3 linked regions of the Homo sapiens genome follow. The protein of the gene in region 2 purifies or fractionates together with the protein of the main gene of each other region. This does not show direct contact. Each region holds a gene or a part of one and is shown on either strand. Other genes may lie near its edges.

Evidence for each region.
Region 1: the proteins of ZNF556 (region 2) and ANKS3 purify together in Homo sapiens (affinity purification with mass spectrometry; 2 studies listed by BioGRID and IntAct, with this or other methods). This does not show direct contact.
Region 3: the proteins of ZNF556 (region 2) and LRP4 purify together in Homo sapiens (affinity purification with mass spectrometry; 2 studies listed by BioGRID and IntAct, with this or other methods). This does not show direct contact.

What each region holds. Positions count from the first base shown.
Region 1 is NC_000016.10:4,699,658-4,703,404, forward strand, and holds part of ANKS3 (ankyrin repeat and SAM domain-containing protein 3), read right to left. Parts: intron 2,586-3,747; coding exon 2,445-2,585; intron 1,887-2,444; coding exon 1,777-1,886; intron 1,478-1,776; coding exon 1,313-1,477; intron 1-1,312. UniProt on the Homo sapiens protein: May be involved in vasopressin signaling in the kidney.
Region 2 is NC_000019.10:2,870,194-2,873,940, forward strand, and holds part of ZNF556 (zinc finger protein 556), read left to right. Parts: intron 1-3,302; coding exon 3,303-3,429; intron 3,430-3,747. UniProt on the Homo sapiens protein: May be involved in transcriptional regulation.
Region 3 is NC_000011.10:46,897,949-46,901,695, forward strand, and holds part of LRP4 (low-density lipoprotein receptor-related protein 4 precursor), read right to left. Parts: intron 2,431-3,747; coding exon 2,314-2,430; intron 2,029-2,313; coding exon 1,915-2,028; intron 1,556-1,914; coding exon 1,439-1,555; intron 1,085-1,438; coding exon 956-1,084; intron 730-955; coding exon 610-729; intron 357-609; exon of another isoform or gene 248-356; intron 1-247. UniProt on the Homo sapiens protein: Mediates SOST-dependent inhibition of bone formation. Functions as a specific facilitator of SOST-mediated inhibition of Wnt signaling.

The sequences.
Region 1 (3,747 bases), on a different chromosome or scaffold from region 2:
CGTTTCTGCTCTCCTTCTGGAATGCCACTGTATGGGGTGGTGTCGGTGTGCTTGAGGGGATCACAGATTTCTGTTAATTTTTTTTACTCATTCTTTCTGTTCCTCAAGCGAGATGATCTCAGGTGACCTGTGTTCACAAGTTGTCTGACTCTTCTGCCTGCTCAATTCTGCTGTGAGCTCGTCTAGTGATATTTTCATTTCATTTACTTTTCAACTCCAGAAATCCTACTTTTGAGAGTTTATTGCTTTTAATGGACAAACAAATGTTACTCTGACATTTTCTTCAAGCTATTTTCTGAAAGAAACATACTTAGGACACTACCCTGACCAGACTCCACTCAACGTATGTTGAAGGGACCGAGACGTGTGCCTGCTCACTGAGCCAGGGGCTGCAGGGAGAAGCCGGCAAATCCAAGGCTCTACTGAACAGCAAAGCCAGTGCTTTAACAAATAACCAGCCAGGCCGGGCATGGCACCAGGCCAGGTGTGGTGGCTCACGCCTGTAATCCCAGCACTTTGGGAGGTCGAGGCGGGCGGATCACGATGTCAGGAATTTGAGACCAGCCTGGCCAACATAGTGAAATCCCGTCTCTACTAAAAATACAAAAAATTAGATGGGCATGGTGGCGGGTGCCTGTAATCCCAGCTACTTGGGAGGCTGAGGCAGGAGAATCGCTTGAACCCAGGAGGAGGAGGTTGCAGTGAGCCGAGATCGCGCCACTGCACTCCAGCCCAGATGACAGTGCGAGACTCCGTCTCGAACAAACAAACCAAATAACCAACCAGAGCTTCCCTCTGCCTCTCCTCTCCGTGCCTCTTCTGCCCACACAGGGTAGGAGAACTCAGCAGACACAGGTGAGACAGCTGAGCTGTGAGTCACACCTCTGATCCCTAAGGTAATGTGTGGTCAGAGGGACCACAGAAAGGAGGAGGATGGTGGCAGCTGTAACCATCACCAAGCACACACTGTGTGTAGTTCCTGTCTCTGCTTCAACCACATCTTGTCAGACTCCTGCAGGCAGCTCTGAGGTCAAGTGTGCTTTTCTTCTCCCCAGGCTCAGGGAGGCCAACTCCAGTATGGAAAGCAGGGAGACAGGTCCTTTCCGTGGAGAGGAACAGAGTAGAAGCGCTGCAGCGGGGCTGCCAGCCATGGAGCCGGCTGTGAGCCTGTGGAGCCTAACAGGCCATGGGGATGCCACCGCCATTCTGTTCTCCTAGCAGCGCCTGGCACGTCATATACACAACACATGCCTCCTAAGTCACAAAAAGTGCCGTCTCTGAGTGTAACCTCCAGTTTCACAAGCGGTCTTACCTGGGGTCCTGAGTAGGGGGCCCTCTGAGTCTGGGGGCTGGACTCAGCGAGAAAGCCTTCCCTGTCAGTTGCAGCGCGGGGAGGCCACTGGCTGTCAGGATTCTTGGTCTTCATGTAACTTTTAGCTTGTTTGCGAGCTGAGCTTTTACAGGCATGATCCGAGTCCTGCAGTGAGAGGCGTGCATCTGAAAGAGTGCGCGGGCTAACTTGAGAGCCTTGGTGAAACCCCCACCCGCCACACAGGGGCTTGAGAGGCTTCGTGAAACCCCCCACCCGCCACACAGGGGCTTCCGGTGCGTTCGCTGTCGTCTGAGAAGCCAGACCCTGGACACAGCACGTCCCAGTGCAGCACACACGTGCAGCAGCTGCTTCTTACATACATGCTCATCTTAAAGTAACTGGGGGATGTCAGGCATCCCAGCCAGGGACCGGCTATGGGAGACCAAGAAAGAAAGAATCCGTACCTCGTTGCTCTCCACAGAAGCTTCGCTGCTGAGCCCCTGGGCTCTGGCCAGGCCCTCGCTGCTGCTGCTGCTCTGGACGGGCCCCAGGTTGGCACAGAAAGCATGTTCCTCTGAGGGCGGGAAGACAGGGCGTCCGCCTGCAGCCCTCACCGAGGTGCTGCGCATGGGCGTGCCCCGGGCTGAGCCGCCTCCACCAGGGCACTCCTTGGGGCCTGCAGCGGTTGCTTCCTTATATTTCAAACTTCCTGCCTGTCCTAAACCCTCCCCTCTATACAGACGGGCAGGGCTTCTGTCTTTTTTGTTCACTGATAAATCCCAAGCACCCGGAGCAGTGCTTGGCACACGGTGGGCACTATGGAAACAGCTGCTGCACGGAGGTGCAGTTATAACAGACATTCCTACTGGGGCCTGCCCTGAAAGCCTCAGGGGCTCCCAAGCAAGGAGCTAAACCTGTTGCTGTGGAACGGCTCCCTTAAGCCGCACGGGGATGCTGGACCAGAAGCTTCTCCCATTCCTCACAAGAACCAGGGCCGTCCACACCTACCCCTTTCCTGTCCTCTGCTGGATGGCTGTGTCCAGCGCCAGGCCCAGGGGATAAGTGGGGATGGGCACACAGGAGCTCCAGGACCTGCCTGAGCCACGGGCCGGATGGGTGGGGGTGCACGTACCCCGACTGCTGCTGCTGCTGCTGCTCTCCACATCCCGCTCATTGATGGGGGAGGTGACATCCCGGCAGCAGAGGCCCTCTTCTTCCAGGGGGTTCTCGCCACTGCTGTTGAAGGTGACATAGCCACGGGGAGGAGCCTGCTCTGTGTACAGAATGGGGCCCATAAGCCCAGGGAACTCCAAAGTGAAACCTCCTCAGAGGCCGAGGCCCAGGATGGAGGCAGGTGACTTCCCAGTCATGACCTCACCTACTTGCCCCTGCGACCTGGCATGGCTCTATCTGTGGTGTGTGGGTGGAAAAGATGCTCTGAGGGTCAGTCAGTGGCCCAAGCAAGTGCCTGGTGGGGCGAGGGCTGGCAGCCAGGTCAAGCCTGGGCCCTCTCCATTTCTTTTCCAAGGGGAAAACGTAGCAAATGGTCAGCTGTATTTACAGATGCCTGACCAGAGAAAACTATACCATGAGTGTTCCTTTTAGCAGGAGGTAGCTAATGACCTCACACAGACACCCATCGACCACGTGTCTTTATGTCCCTGTGACCTTTAACCACAGGCGCTTAGCGGGCCTCCTCTGGTCAGTCAACCCCGGCGAAAAAGAGACCTGGCTGAGCAGGAAGGAAAAAGGCCTTGAGGTAAAAATTAACAACAATAATATGAAATTACCTAACTCTACCTGCCTCTAAAACCAAGCAGAAAAAGGGGCATGTATACCAGGCAATTTCACTCCAGTTTTGCCCCTTTACATAAAAAGACTGACTTGACCAGTCACGGTGGCACATGTCTGTAATCTCAGCTACTTGGGAGGCTGAGACAGGAGGATCGCTTGAGCTCAGGAACTGGAGCCTTCAGTGAGCTATGATCGTGCCACTGCACTCCAGCCTGGGCTACAGTGAAACCCTGTCTCAAAAAAGAACCCAAAGGACTGGTTGATGGGACCATGGGGAACTTACTTTCCTCTTTACGTATTTTCCTAGTTATGGAGAAGTTTTTCTAATCAGCACATGCTATTTATCATTGCCCCCTAAACTGTTTTTGAGACAGGGTCTTGCTGTGTTATCCAGACTGGAATGCAATGGCACCATCATGGGTCACTACAGCCTTGACCTCCTGGGCTCAAGCAATCCTTCCACCTCAGCCTCTCATGTAACTGGGGCTACAGGCATGGGCCACCATATCTGGCTAATTTTCAAAATTTTTTGTAGAGATAGGGTCTTGCTACATTGCCCAGGCTGGTCTCACAACTCCTGAGCCCAAGCAATCTTCCTACCTCAGCCTTCCAAAGTGCTGGGATTACAGGTATAAGCCACT
Region 2 (3,747 bases):
CCCAGCACTTTGGGAGGCCGAGGCAGGTGGATCAGTTGAGGTCAGGAGTTCGAGACCAGCCTGACCAACATGGTAAAACCCTGAGTCTACTAAAAAATAATAATAATAATAAAAATTAGCCAGGCATGGCGGCACACACCTGTAATCCCAGTTAGTTGGGAAGCAGGAGGATGGCTTGAGCCCAGGAGTTCAAGGCTGCGGCGAGTTCTCATTGCGCCATTGCACTCCAGCCTGCACAGCAGAGTGAGACCTTGTCTCTAAAAAATTTTCTGGCCAGGCACGATGGCTCACGCCTGTAATCCCAGCACTTTGGGAGGCCGAGGCAGGCAGATCACTTGAGGTCAGGAGTTTGAGACCAGCCTGGCTAACATGGTGAAACCTCATCTCTACTAAAAATACAAAAATCAGTTGGACGTGGTGGCACACGCCTGTAATCCCAGCTACTCGGGAGGCTGAGGCAGGAGAATCGCTTGAACTCTGAAGGTGGAGTTTGCAGTGAGCCGAGATCATGCCATTGCACTCCAGCCTGGGCGACAGAGTGAGACTCCATCTCAAAAAAAAAAAGGCCGGGCGCGATGGCTCACACCTGTAATCCCAGCACTTTGGGAGGCCGAGGCAGGTGGATCACAAGGTCAGGAGATCGAGACTATCCTGGCTAACACGGTGAAACCCTGTCTCTACTAAAAATACAAAAAATTAGCCAGGCATGGTGATGTGTGCCTGTAATCCCAGCTACTCGGGAGGCTGAGGCGGGAGGATCACTTGAACCTTGGAGGTGGAGGTTGCAGTGAGCCGAGATCGCACCATTGCACTCCAGCCTAGGTGACAGAGCGAGACTCTATCTCAAAAAAAAAAAAAAATTCTAAAGACTATGACACAGGATAAAGAATATATGAAAACACAGAGGTTGCAGTGAGCTGAGATCACGCCACTGCACTCCAGCCTGGGCGACAGAGTGAGATGCCGTCTCAAGAAAAAAAAAAGTATATGACATACACATATATACAGTTAAATGTTATTCAGTCATAATAAAGAAGGAAATCCTGCCATTGGTGACAGCACTGATGAACCTGGGGCACATTATGCTATGTGAGACAAACCAGGCATAGAAAGATGAATACCGGATGATCTTACTTACATGAAGAATCAAAAAGAACCAGATTCCTAGAGGAAGAGAGTAGAAGAGTGATTGCCTGCGGCTGAGGGACAGGGGAAGTGGGGAGAGATGTTGGTCAAAGTGAACCAACTTTCCATTGTAAGGTGAATAAATTCTCTACATCCAGTGTCCAAATGGTGACTGTATTTAAGGATACTGTAATGTATACTTGAAATACACTGGGCCTGGTGCGGTGGTTCACGCCTGTAATCCCAGCACTTTGGGAGGCTGAGGTGGGTGGATCACGAGGCCAGGGGTTCGAGACCAGCCTGACCAACATGGTGAAACCCCATCTCTACTAAAAATACAAAAATTAGTTGGGCATGTATAGGGACCAGCCCCACAGGGTCGGTGGGTTTCTCCCCATGTGCAGAGACAAGAGAGCGTAGAAATAAAGACACAAGACAAAGAGATAAAAGACAGCTGGGCCCGGGGGACCACAACCACCAAGTCGCAGAGACCGGTAGTGGCCCCGAATGCCAGGCTGCACTGATATTTATTGGATACAAGACAAACGGGCAGGATAAGGAGTGTGAGCCATCTCCAATGATAGGTAAGGATGCATGGGTCACATGTCCACTGGACAGGGGGCCCTTCCCTGCGTGGCAGCCGAGGCAGAGAGAGAGAGGAGACAGAGAGTGAGACAGCTTATGCCATTATTTCTGCTTATCAGAGACTTTTAGTACTTTCACTAATTTGCTACTGCTATCTAGAAGGCAGAGCCAGGTGTACAGGATGGAACATGAAAGCGGACTAGGAGCGTGACCACTGAAGCACAGTATCACAGGGAGGCGGTTAGGCCTCGGGATAACTGCGGGCGGGCCTGACTGATGTCAGGCCCTCCACAAGAGGTGGAGGAGTAGAGTCTTCTCTAAACTCCCCCGGGGGAAGGGAGACTCCCCTTTCCTGGTCTGCTAAGTAGCGGGTGTTTTTCCTTGACACTTACGCTACCGCTAGACCACGGTTCACTTGGCAACAGGCGTCTTCCCAGACGCTGGCGTTACCGCTAGACCAAGGAGCCCTCTGGTGGCCCTGTCTGGGCATAACAGAAGGCTCGCACTCTTGTCTTCTGGTCACTCCTCACTATGTCCCCTCAGCTCCTATCTCTGTATGGCCTGGTTTTTCCTAGGTTATGATTATAGAGCGAGGATTATTATAATATTGGAATAAAGAGTAAGTACTACTAACTGATGATTAATTATATTCATATATAATCATATCTAAGATCTATATCTGGTATAACTATTCTTACTTGATATTTTATTATACTGGAACAGCTCATGTCCTCGGTCTCTTGCCTCGGCACCTGGGTGGCTTGCTGCCCACAGGTGTGGTGGCGGGCACCTGTAATCCCAGCTACTCAGGAGGCTGAGGCAGGAGAATTGCTTGAACCCGGGAGGTGGAGGTTGCAATGAGCCGGGATCGCGCCACTGCACTCCAGTCTGGGTGACAGAGCGAGACTCCATCTCAAAAAAAAAAAAAAAAAAGAAATATACTAAAAGGCCGGGTGTGGTGGCTCACGCCTGTAATCCCAGCATTTTGGGAGGCCAAGACAGCTGGATTACTTGAGGTCAGGAGTTCAAGTGCAGCCTGGCCAACATGGTGAAACCCCATCTCTACTAAAAATATAAAAATTATCCAGGCATGTTGGTGTGCATCTGTAATCCCAGCTACTTGGGAGACTGAGGCAGGACAATCGCTTGAACCCAGGAGGCGCAGCTTGCAGTGAGCCGAGATCGCCCTACTGCACTCCAGCCTGGGGCGACAGAGCAAGACTCCGTCTCAAAAAAAAAAAAAATGAAATGTACTAAGAGTGTAAATCTTACTTGTTCTTACCATCAGATTTTTTAAAAAGGTAACTGGTAACAGATGTGTTAATTAACTTCATGGCAGTCATTTCCCAGTGTATATGTGTATCAAATCATCACCTACACCTTAAATGTATACAACTTTTATTTGTCAAAGACAAAAAAACCTACGACACAGGAAGTGATTACAGACAGAGGGGAAGAGGTCTGAGGACTGAGTCTTAAATAGATATTGGCAGACTGCAGGATCTTGTGTGAGTGTCCTATGAACTGAGTTCAGTTCCGCAGTGCTGTGAGTTTTACCCCATCCTCATGTACACATATGTGGTTTGTTTTAGGACACAGTGGTCTTTGAAGACGTGGTTGTGGATTTCACGCTGGAGGAGTGGGCCTTGCTGAATCCTGCTCAGAGAAAACTCTACAGAGATGTCATGCTGGAGACCTTCAAGCACCTGGCCTCAGTAGGTGAGGATAGCATTATTTCTGCACTTAGTTATTAGATAATAAATGTTTTGTCTGGTTGCAGTGGTTCATGCCTGTATTCCCAGTGCTTTAGGAGGCTAAGGCAGGAGGATCACTTGAGGCTAGGAGTTGACAACCAGCCTGGGCAACATAGTGAGACCTTGTCTCTACAAAAAAAAAATCAAAAATTAGCCCGGTGTGGTAGCATGCTCCTGTAGTCCTAGCTACTTGAGAGGCTGAGGCAGGAGAATCGCTTGAGACCAGGAGTTCAAGGCTACAGTGACCCATGATCACACCACTGTACTCCAGCCAGGGTGACAA
Region 3 (3,747 bases), on a different chromosome or scaffold from region 2:
GCCGGGCAGAGGCGCCCCTCACCTCCCGGACGGGGCGGCTGGCCGGGCGGGGGGCTGACCCCCCAACCTCCCTCCCGGACGGGGCGGCTGGCCGGGCGGGGGGCTGACCCCCCCACCTCCCTCCCGGACGGGGTGGCTGACCGGGCGGGGGGCTGACCCCCCCACCTCCCTCCTGGATGGGGCGGCTGGCCGGGCAGAGGGGCTCCTCACTTCCCAGTAGGGGCGGCCAGGCAGAGGCGCCCCTCACCTCCCGGATTGTCTTGTTTTTTGAGATGTCATCTCACTCTGCTACAGGGACGCCGTCTCGGGTCACTGCAACCTCTGCCTCCTAGGTTCAAGCGATTCTCCTGCCTCAGCCTCCCGAGTAGCTGGGATTACAGGCATGCGCCACCACACCCAGCTAAGTTTTGTATTTTTAGTAGAGATGGGGTTTAACCATGTTACCCAGGCTGGTCTTGAACTCCTGACCTCAAGCAATCCACCCACCTTGGTCTCCCAAAGTGCTGGCATTATAAGCATGAGCCACCGCGCCCAGCCGGTAGTGGCCTCTTTGGCTCCACAAGCCTTCTCCTTAGTTCAAGCCCAACCTAATTCCATTTCCCCACTCACTGCAGTTGCGCTCATCAGACTGGTCATCACAGTCCGCGTCACCATCGCAGCGCCAGCCTGCATTGATGCACAGGCCACTGTCACACATGAACTCCCCAGAGCGGCAGGGCTGGTGGGAGGCTAGGGAAACACAAGACTTCTGTCTCTAGCCAGTCTGTGCAGTGTCCCATGGCAGACTAGAAGGCCACAGCCCCAGAATCCCAGTTCCTCCATCTCTTCCCAAGAGGGACCAGAAAATCCAGAAACTCCTCTCTGAACTCCTGCCCCAGCTGGCGACTGTGCCTTGCCACCCAAGCAGTTCTTCCCAGCCTGGCCTCCCCACCTCCCAGCTGGCCAGAGTACTCACAGCAGTCAGACTCGTCTGACCAGTCTCCACAGTCATCGTCGCCATCGCAGTGGTAGATGTCGAGGATGCAGCGTCCATAGGCACACTGGAACTCCTCCAGGTTGCAGGGGGGCGCTGGCACTGCTGAGGCTGGAGGGAAGGCAGGGGTGGGGAGGGGCACACACTCAGGCCTGGATGAAGGAGAGGGGCCCTGATTCCTCAAGCAGGCAGGATGCTCAGGCAGGAGAGCTTCTTCAAGTGAGATGTAACCAGGTTTCATCTGGGACAGCCCTTATAGACGCCCATATTCAGGTGGACCAAAGGAAGCCTTCCCTTCCCACCTGGGGAACTTGCTCCCTCCCTAGCTCAGCCTAGGAGGAGCTGCTGCTGAGGCACCCATGCTCCTTGCCCTTGGTACATGCACTCCTCAGCCTCGCCCTTAGCCAATGGGCAGAACTGTCTGCCCTCATCCAACCCAACAGCCTGAGGTCTGGGGCCACTCACGACAGTTCTCCTCATCGGAGCCATCTTTGCAGTCGGTGTCACCGTCGCAGTACCAATGCTCAGCAATGCAGCTTCCGTCACTACAGCGGAACTCCTTGTCGGAGCACTTGCGCATGTCTGGGGGGATGCGATGGGACAGCAGTTCTGAGGGGGCCCCACAGGCAACCCTCTCACCCTCCTCTCTGACTCCCAACCTCACTGGCTTTGGCGGGTCTGACCTAGCCCCCGAAAGGCACCCCAGAGTCAGTGCAGACTCTCCAGGGAGAACGGAGGCCCTGGAGAGACTGGGCCTCAGCCTCCTGGTCCACAGTTTCTGGGGGGTCTGAGCGGCTCTGCCCCCTCTGCGTTCCTCTAGCTGCTCCAGATATCTGGGCAGTTGGAGGTTTGGCAGTGCTAGGGCCATTGCTGCTATCTTCTCCCATGGCCAGGCCACCCACTGGCCACCTTGCCTGCCTTCCCCCGTTGGGGTCACCCACCACACTGCTCATCGCTGTTGTCGCCACAGTCATTGTCACCATCGCAGTGCCACAGACTCCGGATGCAGTAGCCATTCTGGCAGGGAAACTCGTCCTCCTCACACTCCCGGGGGGCTGTGGGCACAGAGCAGTCAGGCTGCTGCAGGCAGTGGGGGTCTGGTGCCTGGAAGCCTGACTTAAAGCCCTCCGGAGCAGTCAAGTAGCTCCAGTGCTGCCCTGAGGGCTCCGAAGGAGGTGGCTGCCTCTCAGCAGCTTATCTGACTTCGAGAGGAAGTGAAAGGACAGGACAAAGTGCTGAAAACACAAGGGCTCATGTGGACCTGGGGCATTGCTTTCTGATTGAAAATCCTTTCCCAGTGGAACTCAATGGAGTTCCGCCCAGCCTCTGCCAACACTCACGACAGTCCTGCTCATCCGAGTCATCCTCACAGTCGTTGTCCCCGTCACACACCCAGGAGCGGCGGATGCACTTGCCATTGTCACAGTGAAAGTCAAGAGGGGAACAGGTAGGTAGTACTGAATCCCAGGAAAAGAAAAGAAAAGTCAATCAACCTGGTATTCTTACTCAGGCTCAACTAGGCCAGATAGCCTTTTGCTCCAAATCCCCTTGTCTTTTTTTCTTTTTTTGAGACCGAGTCTTACTCTGTCACCCAGGTTGGAGTACAGTGGCGCAATCTTGGCTCACTGCAACCTCTGCCTCCTGGTTCAGGCGATTCTGACTCAGCCTCCCAAGTAGCTGGGATTACAGGCATGCTTCACCACACCTGGCTAGGTTTTTTTGGTTTTTGTTTTTGTTTTTTGCATTTTTAGTAGAGACAGGGTTTTGTCGTGTTGGCCAGGCTGGTCTCAAACCCCCGACCTCAGGTGATCTGCCTGCCTCAGCCTCCCAAAGTGCTGGGATTACAGGCATGAGCCATGGCGCCTGGCCTTTTTTTTTTTTTTGAAACAGAGTCTGACTCTGTCACCCAGGCTGGAGTGCAGTGGTATGATCTCGGCTCACTGCAACCACCGCCTCCTGGGTTCAAGGAATTCTCATGCCTCAGCCTCCCGAGTAGCTGGTGTTACAGGTGCCCGCTGCCACACCCAGCTATCTTTTTTTTTGTGTGTATTTTTAGTAGAGGTGGGTTTTCGCCATGTTGGCCAGGCCAGTCTCGAACTCCTGGCCTCAAGAGATCCACCTGCCTTGGCCTCCCAAACTGTTGGGATTACAGGCGTGAGCCACCACACCCAGCCCCCTTGTCTGTTTTATAGTCCTTCCTTACTGACTCCTAGGCCCATCCCCAGCTGATGGAGAAGCTAAGCAGAAACTGCAGCTAAGACAGAGATTCAAAAGGTAATTGTGGTGAGGGGTTCACAGGGTAGGGGAAGAACAACCCAAAGAACTCACAGGAGCTAAGAAAACATAAGAAAAACATGAGCAAGAGAAAGAAGCGCCTTTTTCCCCTCCTTTCCTCTTGTTAAATGATGATTGACACACCCGGGCTCAATTTCCAGTTCATTACGTAACACTCTGAGCAAGTCATTTACCCTCTCTGAGCTGAAGTCTTTTTGGCTGTACAATGGGGATAATTATACTCAGTTCATAGAGGCCTTTTGATATAATGCCTATGAAAATGCTACATGAAAGTGAAGCATTTATCATCAACACAATTAGCTGAACTGGTTAGGGTTAATGAGGTCCAGGTTGTACCTCCGTTCCCATTAGACTAATTAGCCACCCTCAGACATAGATGCTACAGGTAGGTCAGAGATTGCGCCTCTAATCCAGACTATTGGCTTAGCAGGGATATTTCTATATATCCAAGACAGGTCACCCTGGCCAACTGTGCAGAT